Homo sapiens: one gene and its partners. The protein of the gene in region 1 purifies or fractionates together with the protein of each later gene. This does not show direct contact. Each region holds a gene or a part of one and is shown in the gene's direction. Other genes may lie near its edges.

The links.
Region 2: the proteins of NYX (region 1) and EMB purify together in Homo sapiens (affinity purification with mass spectrometry; 3 studies listed by BioGRID and IntAct, with this or other methods). This does not show direct contact.
Region 3: the proteins of NYX (region 1) and COX16 purify together in Homo sapiens (affinity purification with mass spectrometry; 2 studies listed by BioGRID and IntAct, with this or other methods). This does not show direct contact.

What each region holds. Positions count from the first base shown.
Region 1 is NC_000023.11:41,445,455-41,449,203, forward strand, and holds the start of NYX (nyctalopin precursor), read left to right. Parts: upstream 1-1,888; 5' UTR 1,889-2,062; exon of another isoform or gene 2,063-2,394; 5' UTR 2,395-2,450; coding exon 2,451-2,472; intron 2,473-3,749.
Region 2 is NC_000005.10:50,413,614-50,417,362, reverse strand, and holds part of EMB (embigin precursor), read left to right. Parts: intron 1-3,749. UniProt on the Homo sapiens protein: Plays a role in the outgrowth of motoneurons and in the formation of neuromuscular junctions.
Region 3 is NC_000014.9:70,344,650-70,348,398, reverse strand, and holds part of COX16 (cytochrome c oxidase assembly protein COX16 homolog, mitochondrial isoform 1 precursor), read left to right. Parts: exon of another isoform or gene 1-2,071; intron 2,072-3,205; exon of another isoform or gene 3,206-3,264; intron 3,265-3,749.

The sequences.
Region 1 (3,749 bases):
CATCCTCCCAAGTCGGTGGTACCAGCTCACCTGGTGGATGGGCTCCTTCCTTTTTATGCCAAGAGTCTCTGATGCCTCCTTATTTTCCACTTGGGAGAAATGTTTCAGTTCACAGGTGGAGAAGAAGGTCTTCCTTAGTGGGATCCCAGTGCCAGAGCACCAGGCCCACTGGCCTGGAGAAGATTGAAGGGAAGGTTGGACCAATAAGCTGCGAACAAAGGTTGTGGGTGCAGACAGGTTGGCTCTTACAGTCGAGATTCAGCCTCTGGACTGCTGCTGGGGGAGTGGGGGCTTCGTTGGGCTAAGGCTTGGGGTGATGGCTACAGGGACACCTCCGACACTGGTGGTCACAATGAGAGGGCTGCCCACTGCTCTCATCTAATAAGCCAGGCGAGTCCAACACTGGGGATAGAGATGTCATTTGAGAGGCCTCCCCCACCCACATCCCTACCCCATCCCTAGTATTCTCTTCTTTCCAGCAGGTTAGACAAGTTCAGCCACATTTTGGCTTTCAAGGCTCAAATGGAAGAAAACAAAAATTCCCCAGGGCACGGTGGCCTGAGATGTCTAGATTCACATCCAGAACCCTTTCTGTGGGAAGGGAACTCCTGGCTTCCTTTCATCAGCACTGGCTCACCAAGTCCTGCGTGGCCAGAACTTGGCAGGTTGCCATGGATACCTGGAAGTGCTGTCCCAGCAGACAGCAGAGGCTTGCTGGGGCCAGGAGAATGTGGGGGCACCTGAACTGCTGGCCAGAAAGGCTAGATAAACAGGCCCCCCTGCCACCCTCATTTTGATCAGACCCCCTCCACCAGTCTCCTAAAACAGGGCTTTCCAAACTTTACCGGGCACAGGAATCCCCCTCTCCGCCGACCTAGTTAAAATGCAGATGCTGGCCGGGCGCGGTGGTTCACGCCTGTAATCCCAGCACTCTGGGAGGCCGAGGCGGGTGGATCACAAGGTCAAGAGATCAAGACCATCCTGGTCAACATGGTGAAACCCCGTCTCTACTAAAAATACAAAAAATTAGCTGGGCATGGTGTAGTCCCAGCTACTCAGGAAGCTGAGGCAGGGGAATCGCTTGAACCCAGAAGGTGGAGGTTGCAGTGAGCCAAGATTGTGCCACTGCACTCCAGCCTGGGCGACAGAGTGAGACTCCATCTCAAAAAAAAAAAAAAAAAAAAAAAAGCAGATGCTGATTCAACAGGTCTGGGGCGGGGGGTAGAAGGCGCTGAGATTCTGTTTTCCTAACGAGCTCTCAGGTACTGCTGCTGGTCCACCGGCCACACTGAGTAGCCAGGGCCTAAACTGAGTCCTGGTGGGTTTCAGAAACCTCAGCCAGATTCTGAAGGTCCCATTCCTGGACCCACTGCCTTAGGCCACCACTACCAGCCCTAACCCCAGTGGGAACCTCTTGCCTTCTTGTAGTGGAAGGACTCTCTCCAGTCCGTTTTTGTATCATTCACCATCAACCACTTCAAAGAAAGGAAATCAGCAGCCGGCATTTTGGGGAAACATTTTAAGCTGTCCTGTCCCTTCTCCAGCTCTCCAAGTTATATAATGCGTCCTTGTTGAAAATGCTGATAATGCTGTTTGGGTGGCAGGAAGCCAATTTCAGGCTACATATTGCTTGGGGCTGGGGCTGGGGTCAGGGAACGGGGCAGGGTCTGGGGAAGGTTTAAGGAGAGAAAGGGGCCAGGCAGATGGAGAGAGGACAGGAGGGCCAGGGTGGTCAAGGCCCGGGGATAAAGCCGATTGGTATGTCAGCAAAATCTGTCACTGGCTTTAGTGATTCGAAAGGCAGACACATTCTTTCATCTCTGTTAATCCTCATGTGATACAGAGGATTTTCCTGCCATTAAATCTGGAGAAAGAAAAATAAGCACTCAAACCTGCACAAGTAACTATTCCTCTTCACCCCTTCCTCCCGTCCCCCCACCCCCACCTTTACTTCTCTCTCAAACCATTTTCAGCATCTGTGGCTGCCTGACTTGGGAGATGGATGGGCTGAGGGAGTGGAGGGGGACCTCAGAGGAGCAGGACCAGGGAGACTCCCAGGACGGTAAGCAACATTTGAGGACCATTCACTAACGCTTCTCTGCAGGGGTTTCCTCTCCATCCATTTCCTTGCTGGGTTGTCAGTGATGCCATCTGAGTTGCTGTCAGGGCTGTAGCCTGACAAAGGGTTTCCTAATAGATCCAAACTGTCCATTTGTGGGGAGCTTCTGATTTTCTGTTGTTACTGGTTTCCCTTAGCCCAACACCAGGGTCATTAAGAAGGAAGGAATGTGAGGAAGAAAGAAAGGCAGGGCATTCAGGAAGAAGTGTGGAGGCATGGGAGGGTTCTCATGGGGCCCTCCTGGGCACTGGGTGACCTGTCCTTTCTCCCCTCAGGTAGGGGTCCCACGGCTGGGTGGTCCTAAGCCACTGGGTGGATGAAAGGCCGAGGGATGTTGGTCCTGCTTCTGCATGGTGAGTTCTCCTGCCGGTGGGTGCAAGGGTTGGGAAGAGGGGTGGAAGCCACAGAGCTTCTGCCCAAAGAGTCTTTAAAGTGGCTTCTGGGACAGCGGTATCTGGACACTTCTGATCAGGTTTCACTGACCCTGTGATCGTGGGGGAGGGGATAGAGAAAGCAAGAAAACAGCAGGTGGTGGGGATTTTTGTTTCCTAAAAACAAAACTCCTGAGCCGAATATATGAAATAGTCCTCTTGGTGATTTTCTTATTCTAATTTCAGATATGAATTCATTGGTGTGATAACCAAAAGCTACAGTGCTACAGTGTTTTTTTGTTTTGTTTTGTTTTTGGAGATGGAGTCTCGCTCTGTCACCCAGGCTGGAGTACAGTGGTGCGACCTCGGCACACTGCAAGCTCCGCCTCCCGGGTTCACGCCATTCTCCTGCCTCAGCCTCCCGAGTAGCTGGGAGTACAGGTGCCCGCCACCACGCCTGGCTAATTTTTTGTATTTTTAGTAGAGACGGGGTTTCACCATGTTAGCCAGGATGGTCTCGATCTCCTGACCTCGTGATCTGCCCGCCTCGGCCTCCCAAAGTGCTGGGATTACAGGCGTGAGCCACCGTACGGTGGTTTTTTCTTTTCTTTTCTTTTCTTTTTTTTTTTTTTTGAGACAGAGTCTCACTCTCGCCCAAGCTGGGGAGCAGTGGCATGGATCTTGGCTCACTGCAACCTCCGCCTCCCGGGTTCAAGTGATTCTCGTGCCTCAGCCTCCTGAGTAGCTGGAACTATAGGCACCTGCCACCACGCCCAGCTAATTTTTTGTATTGTTAGTAAAGACGGGGTTTCGCCATATTGCCCAGGCTGGTCTTGAACTCCTGACCTCAGGTGATCTGCCTGTCTCGGCCTCCCAAAGTGCTGGGATTGCAGGCATGAACCACCGTGCCCAGCCTACAGTGGTTTCTAATCACATTATTTTAAGCTCATTTAGTTAAAAACAAAAGTCCCTTTAAAAAACCACCTTCCTAAAGGAAAAAGAAAAAATGAAAAATGCCTTGGAATTATAGGATTATGGATATTGAAGTTATTTTTCAAAGTTTCTCGCTCTGTTATGTGCACTTTAATATACCAAGAAGACTCGTTATGAAATATTTTCCCTGGCTCTAGCTGTTCCAATCTGACTGAGATAGCCCAAGGAAAAATCCTTTAAATTCTTCAGTAAATGATTCTACACAAAGAATCTGTTTTTTTCTGACCCTCAAGTGAATTTAATTATTTGAGATATGATGATCTATG
Region 2 (3,749 bases), on another chromosome or scaffold:
AACTTTGAGAATTTTATTCTTATTCATAAGTTAACTCCATATGTTTAAGACGCACAACATTAATGATAAAAATAAGATCCATTGTATCATTTTTATATAGGGGTGTTGGCCTCATGTTAGTGTGGCCTTCTGTTTCTGTAAGGATTCTGGATGTTTAATAGACATTTTGGGTTGCATCATGAAGCTTTATTGACTTTTATGGTGAAATTATTACAGGGCAGGTGAATCCGAACATTGGGGTTTAGCCCGAGAAGGTTGGCTCAGGAAAGAATTCAAGAGTGAGCTGGTGGTAGAAAAATCAGCTTTATTGAGGCAGGGTTGTTACAGCTCTGTGACTTCTCCTTCAGAGCAGGGGTACCCCTGGGCAGTGTGTCAAGAGTAGCAGCTCAGGGCCAGTTCTGCAGCCATGTTTATACTACTTTTAATTATGTGCAAATTAAGGGACAAGGTATTCAGAAATTTCTAGAAAACAGAAGGTAACTTCTGGGTCATTGCCATGGAAAGGGATGGTAACTTCTGGGTGTAGCCATGGCAATGGTAAACTGTCATGGTGCTGGTGGGTGTGTCTTACGGAGAGGATCTTTCGTTGCCTCTTCCTTGTTTCTGTCAGTCTTCAATCTGGTCCAGAGTCACATTCCACCTCCTACCTCATTATGAATAATGAAAAGTCAGGCTGATAGGGCTCTGTATTTTCTATCTTGGCTTCTGTCAGAGTTGTCCCATCGAATCCGTCGTATATGTCACAGTTCACTTAACTGTGTTTAGTAAGGGTTTCTATCTTTAAAGCATGTTTGGAAACACTATCCTATGCAATAAATTTTAATTGGCTTCTTCCATATTTTCTTTTTCTTAATAAAGAACAAAGCAGACTTTTATTTCTAGTGAAATGGTTTACAAGATTGGGTCCTGAATAGACCCAAGAAAATCTAAATGTCATTTCTCTGAAGACTGCAAATTGTTGAAAGGCCCATATACTTTAAAAATGTTACCTATGAAAATAAGAAATTATTTAGACAGGTATAAATTACTATATGGTTTTAAGAACAGTCTTGAAAATACGTTTCAAAAACAACAAATTGTTATCGTTTTAGAAATGCAGATGTCATAGATGTTTTTGCAGCACTCTAAAGCAGCAAAAATGCATTGCAGTTGTGCAGTATTAAGGAAGTTGAAACATCGTTGACTGAGCTCACATTAGTTTGTTGGCTAACCACAAAATATGTAAAAAGGTAGAGCTTTTTGCATGTTTTTGATGCTGTGATTTCTTGACAGGAAGGAAAGCAAACTGCAGAAGCACAGCAAACTGCAGAAGCACCTGCAAAGTATTATAGGAAACAGTGAGACAACGATTAGGGCTTGGAGGATGGCCTACCATTAAGAAAAACTGTGTTGCACTTTAAGTTATGTAAAACTATGTTTAGTTGAAAATGTGTATTTTTAAAATATTTTGATTGCACTGTTCATTTTATCATCGCATTCATATTGGTATATAGCTACACTGTACATTTCTTTAATCTTCTATTAATATTTTCTTTTATTTAAAATCTTGTTTCAACAGTTTGAAGGTGATGAAGTTAATTCCATTGTAATGAGAATTTAATATGTTTGAGAGTTGGTATATTCTGTTGGTTATCACAGTCTGGACTCAGGCATACCTAAATCTGAGATTCAGTGTTGCCTTTGTCTTGATGTGTAATCTTAGACAAAATAGCCTCTCTTTGCCTCATCTCTAAAGTTGGAATTGTAGCAGTGATACTTACCTCATAAAGCTGTTGTGAAGATTAAATTATTTAATCAACATATAACCCTTAGCACCATATATGATAGTTTTTATAATATTCCCCAGTGAGATAATGGTGAGAAGAAGTAAGTGGGCATTTATTAATTGCTATATTATATTACTGTTGACGTTTCTTATGATAGAACTTTTTACAATCTCATGGAATATTATTGTCCCACCTTACAAATAAGGAAACTGATGTCTAATACAAAGATACTTTGATTTGCACATGCAAGGTATAGAATCAAGGCAGTTAAACAATTTGAGTTTTGCTTAAATTGCTCCAACCAAAGTTGTCCTTTGGTTGGAGCAAGAGAAGCTGGCCAAGAGAAATTAGATAATTTACCTGGTCTTGGTGAAAGATAATGAAGGCCAATAATAGGAGGGTTGGATAAAACTGGGCAAATTTGTTTGACATTTTAGCGGTAGAATCAACTAAATACTACTGCATGTGATTCAGTGTTATAGGTCAGCACAAGGGAATATTAATGGATCTCTTGGATATTTTGAGTTTGAAGTTCTCATGGGATATCCAGATTTAGATGCTCCGTAGACACCTGGAGCTGTAAAATAAAAAAACGACTTCAGTGGAGGTTCTAATTTTGCAAGTAAAGAGCATTAGAGTTAATAGTTGAATCCAACAAAGAAGTGCCAAATTGAGAAGTAAAGAGACCAGAGAGCAAAATCCTGATGGGCACCAACATTTAAAAGGTAGTTGGAATAATTTGGTGTGGCTAGCAAAATGTTTAAAATATACTAGGATAGTGAAATAGAGCACAGTAAAGGGAACTGCAAGGAATAAGGTAGTCTCTGGCAATATATGTATTCTAGAGACATCAAATATTATTTTTCTTTTTGAGCATTAAATTCAATTCAGCAATTTTGCAATTTTACAAGCAGTTATTTCAAGCATGTGCTCACAAAGCACTTTGCACGAGCTGTACTTCACTATCTGCAAACCTTGCATCTGGTCCTTGCTTATGGAAGCATTTCGTAAAGTTTCAAATGTAATTAAAAGTGATAGAATTTTTTTTTTTTTTTTTTTTTTTTTTTTGCCTGAGACAGGGCCCTGCTTTATCACCTTGCCTGGCGTGCAGTAGTGCCACCTTAGCTCACTGCAGCCTCAACTCTCGGGCTCAAGAGATCTTCCCACCTCTACCTGAGACTAGATGGGACCACAGGCATGCACTACCAAGCCTGGCTAATTTTTTCTTTTTTTTTGTGGAGATGAGGTCTCACCATGTTGGCCAGGCTGGTCTGGAATGCCTGTGCTCAAGCAATCCCACACACCTCAGTCTCCCAAATTACTGGGATCACAGGCATGAACCATTGCACCTGACCATTTTATTTGAGTTGTATTATTTTTCTTTCTACATTTTGGCTCTGCATTCTACATTTCATCATACTATACCATTATTGAGAATGAGAAGAGCTTGAGAAATTTGTTTATATGATATACTACCGTCTTCCAAACACAACTCCTTCTCTTCCCCTTAAGAGTAATTACCACTATTCTGATTTTTATGCAGTCACTTTCTTGCTTTTCTGTATTGCTTTATTACCCAGGTATGCATCCCTAAATATTACAGTTCAGTTTTGCTTTTCTTTTAATAGTATTTTTTGAGTATCTTATAATCTTCAGGTGCCCCAAACATAGCACCTGACGTCCGATACAAAGACATCTCTCTCCCTTTTAAAATTTGTCTATTGAAAAAACCAGGCCAGGTGCGGTGGCTCATCACTTTGGGAGTCCAAGGCAGGCAGATCGCCTGAGGTCAGGAGTTTGAGACTAGCCTGGCCAACATGGTGAAACCCCATCTCTGCTAAAAATACAAAAAAATTAGCCAGGCATGGTGGCAGGCGCCTGTAATCCCAGCTACTTGGGAGGCTGAGGCAGGAGAATCGCTTGAATCCGGGAGGCGGAGGTTGCAGTGAGCTGAGACGACACCATTGTACTCCAGCCTGGGCA
Region 3 (3,749 bases), on another chromosome or scaffold:
TAGCTTCAGGAAAGAGCATGGCAGGGTTTACATGAGAGCTGGTTAGCACGGTGATTTGGGGGGTTTCTATGAACAGAGCATACAGTTGGAGGAGCCGTGGGGCAGAGATGAGACTTAGTACACTGTGGTGAGCTAGCATGTCTTTGATATTATGGGTTGAATAAACTGTTAGGTTGGCATGGAGAGATAGTTTTAGGCTTTCAAGGATGAAGACAGCAGCTGCCTCCAGTGCTTGGAGGCAGGCAGACCATCTGAGAACTGTGGCTTCAAGCTGTTTGGAGAGGTAGGCGATAACCTGGAGGGTGGGTCTCTTAGACTGGGTTAGAACACCTAGTGCAACTCTACACGTTCGTTGGTATAGAGGGAGAAAGGTTTGGTGAGGTCTGGGAGAGTGAGGATGGGGGCTGAGATGAGAGTCTTCTGGAGTAGATGGAAAGGTTGGGTAATAGGCTATGCAGGGTTTGAAGGCTCATGGAGAGGGCCTTTAGTGTCTTGGTATAATGGTTTGGCAAGTAGAGCAAAGGAGGGAACCCAGAGCCTAACATATCCCACTAGTCCTAGGAAAGAGAATTTCTTGCTTAGTTTGCAGAGGTGGGAGAGACTGGAGGAGGGATATGTGGTCGGTTGTGAGCCCTCGGGTTCATGGGGTAAGAGCCAGGCCTAGATAAGTGACTAAGGGGGCTCATATTTGTGCTTTCTTAGGGGAGACCCGATACCTCCGTTCTGCCAAGAAGTTTAAAAGAGAGAGATAGCATGGGCGTTGCAGTCTCTTTGAGAGGGGCTACACAGGAGCAGATCATTAACACATTGAAGGAGAGTGGACGGTTTTAGGGATAAGGTACAGAGGTCATGAGCAAGGGCCTGTCCAAAAAGATGGGGGCTGTCTCTGAAACCTTGAGGTAGTACGCACCAGGTGAGCTGATGTGAAAGGTGGGTGTCGGGGTTTTCCCATGTAAAGGCAAAGAGGTTTTGGGAATCAGGGTGTAAAGGAATTGTGGAAAAAAGCATCCTTTAGGTATAGAACAGGAAAATGGGTGGTATTGGAGGGAATTGCAGAAAGTAAAGTATATGGGTTAGGAACTACTGGACATACTGGGAGTACAGCTTGGTTAATGAGCCTGAGGTCCTGGACTAAGTGATAAGTTCCATCTGGCTTTTAAACAGGTAGAACTGGTGTGTTAAAAGGAGAGTTTCTTGGGTGGAGTAGGTGACTGGTGAGGCGGCGAGAAATGATAGGCTTTAGGCCTATGAGAGCTGCTTGGGGGATGGGATACTGCTTCTGTGATAGGAACTGGGTGGACTCTTTAAGGGTAATGCGGACGGGGGTGTGGTGTTTTGCGACTGAAGGTGTGGAAATATTCTAAACAGCGGGGTTAACTACGGATGGGGGATAAGGTAAAGTTGCATGTTTTAAGGTGGCAGGTTGGAGGAGTAGAAGAAAGTTAGATGCCCCGAGGGGTCTGGGTTGATGCGTTGGGTACTATGGGGAATGTGCAAGTGGAGAGTAGTGTGGAGTTTTGAAAGGATGTCTCTGGTATGAGGGCAGGACTAAGAAAGGGTGACTGAAGGAAAAGGTGTGCAGGGAGCAGAAAAGTGGAGGGGTGGCTCAGGGTTTGGAGTCTTGTCTGTCAATTCCCACAACGGAGAAAAGGGAGGACTGGGTGTGTCCTGAAAAATTAGGTAAAGCAGAGTAGTTTGCCCGGTATTAATTAAAAAAAAAATACTGGCCTACCTGCCACCATCAGGGTTACCCTTGGCTCGGATGAAGCGATGGTAGTTGCCGGGGCATCCATTCCAGGGCACCATCAATCTTCAGCGGCAAGGCCAATGAGATCCAAGTAGGAGGTTTTGGCCGGCTTAGGAAGTGATGGGGCCGCCCTTGCAGGGGCCGCTCACAGTCCAATTTCCATTGGGGTCCTCTGCAGAGGGGGCATGGCCTGGTGGGCTTACCTGGATTTGGGCATTGTCTGGACCAGTGGCCTTCATTGCCGCACTTGAAAAGGTGCCAAGTGGAGGTAGGTTGCTAGGAGGCTTCCGTGTGGAGCTGCGGACCCGTGGGCCTGCAGGGCCCCTGATGGCGGAGGCAAGCATTTGAAACTCCGCCTGTTTTTGCCTTTTACTTTCCCTATCACGATTGTTAAAGACTATGAAGGCTAAATTAAGACGGTCTTGTGAGGTTTGAGGGCCATCATCAAGCTTCTGAAGCTTGCACCGAATATCGGGGGTGGATTGGGAGATGAACCGAAGGTTTAAGATAATGGTTCGTTCTGAGGGTTTGAAGGGGGAAGGAGGGTTAACAGGCAGTGGAGGATAGGCAGGGGCGTAAGGTGGCGGGATGAGTTTACAAGCTTTAGGAGAGGGCAGTGGGGGAGGAGAATGGGTACAGGCAATACTAGAATTGTCCCGAGGAGGGGATGGTGTAGGAAAAGAAGTGGATACAGCTGACTGGGAAGATGGCAGCTGGGAAGATGGCAGCTGAGAAGACAACGAGGAGGCTTGGGGGGTTAAAAAAGATGGTTGAGAGGAAAAGGTAGGGGTTGGGAGGGGTGGATAGCAGTCAGTTGGATCGAACGAGAAAAATGAGGTAGGGTCGGGAGGAGAAAGGCGATCAGGGCGGTGAGAATGGAGGGGAAGGATTTGAACAGGTAAGCAAGAATTGCAGAGGTTGGGTTGTGAACTGAGTGCAAAAAGGCCTGGACATAAGGAATTTCTTCCCATTTTTCCAGTCGTCGGCAATAATTGCTTAAGTCAGTTAAAATTGTAAAGTTGAATGTTCTATTTGCAGGCCATTTGGACCCATTATTTAATTTGTACTGTGGCCAGGCTGTATTGCAAAAAAGACAGGTACTTAGAGCGAATATCTTGCCTGAGGCCTAAGGTTTGCAGGTTTTTTATGAAGCAGCCTAGAGGGCTGTTGTTTGGAATGGAGGACCGGAGTTTCCCATAACAGAGGGTAGGCTCAGGAGAACAGGGAAAAAGGAGACCATCCTGGAGGGAGATGATAAAAGGAGCAACTGTCACCGCTGCCTTTTTCGTTCCTGGAACACGATCAAATGGCTTAGAGGCATCCCCCTAAGACCAGATGATCAGCGAGTGCCTGGCACACGCCGGCGCCTTCTTGGACCAACACTGGATATTCGGACCAGAGAAACTAAGAGAGGCCGTGTGAATTTTCCCTGCTAACTGGGCCCCTGAGGAAACTTACCAGTAAGCAAGATCAGTGACCAATGTGCATGCACAGAGAGGCAACTGGAGATCGAGGAGCTTCCTTTGTCTGGCTGCTGTGGCCTGCTGTCTGGGGTGGAGGGGTAGGTTCACAGGGGACGTGGACCAGAACCTCTCCCGGGTTTCAGCACCAGATGTACGGTTCTTGTATCGGTTGGAACCCTGAGAGCGCACCAACAGACAACATGAGGTGGTGAGGAGCAACATGCTGTTTTGATGAGCGCGTGGGTGCAGGTGGGCTGAGGCCTAAAATGGCATCAGCCCCAAGTGAGGATGGGACAAAGGTTTTATAGTCTCCTGTAAACAGGAAGTGTCCTAGTCTGACATAATTGCTCTGTTGTACCTGGATGGCCTCTTTCTCAATCTTCAGGGGTACGTATTTTCCGGCCGGCTCTCTTCCTGCTTCTGCTATCTTGCTGGTGCACACTGCTGGTACAAGTAGCCTTGTGCCTTGGGACTGGGCCTGAGAAGGGATGAGTTGTTCATCTCCTTAAGCTTTCAGGTCCCAGGGAGAATCTTACACT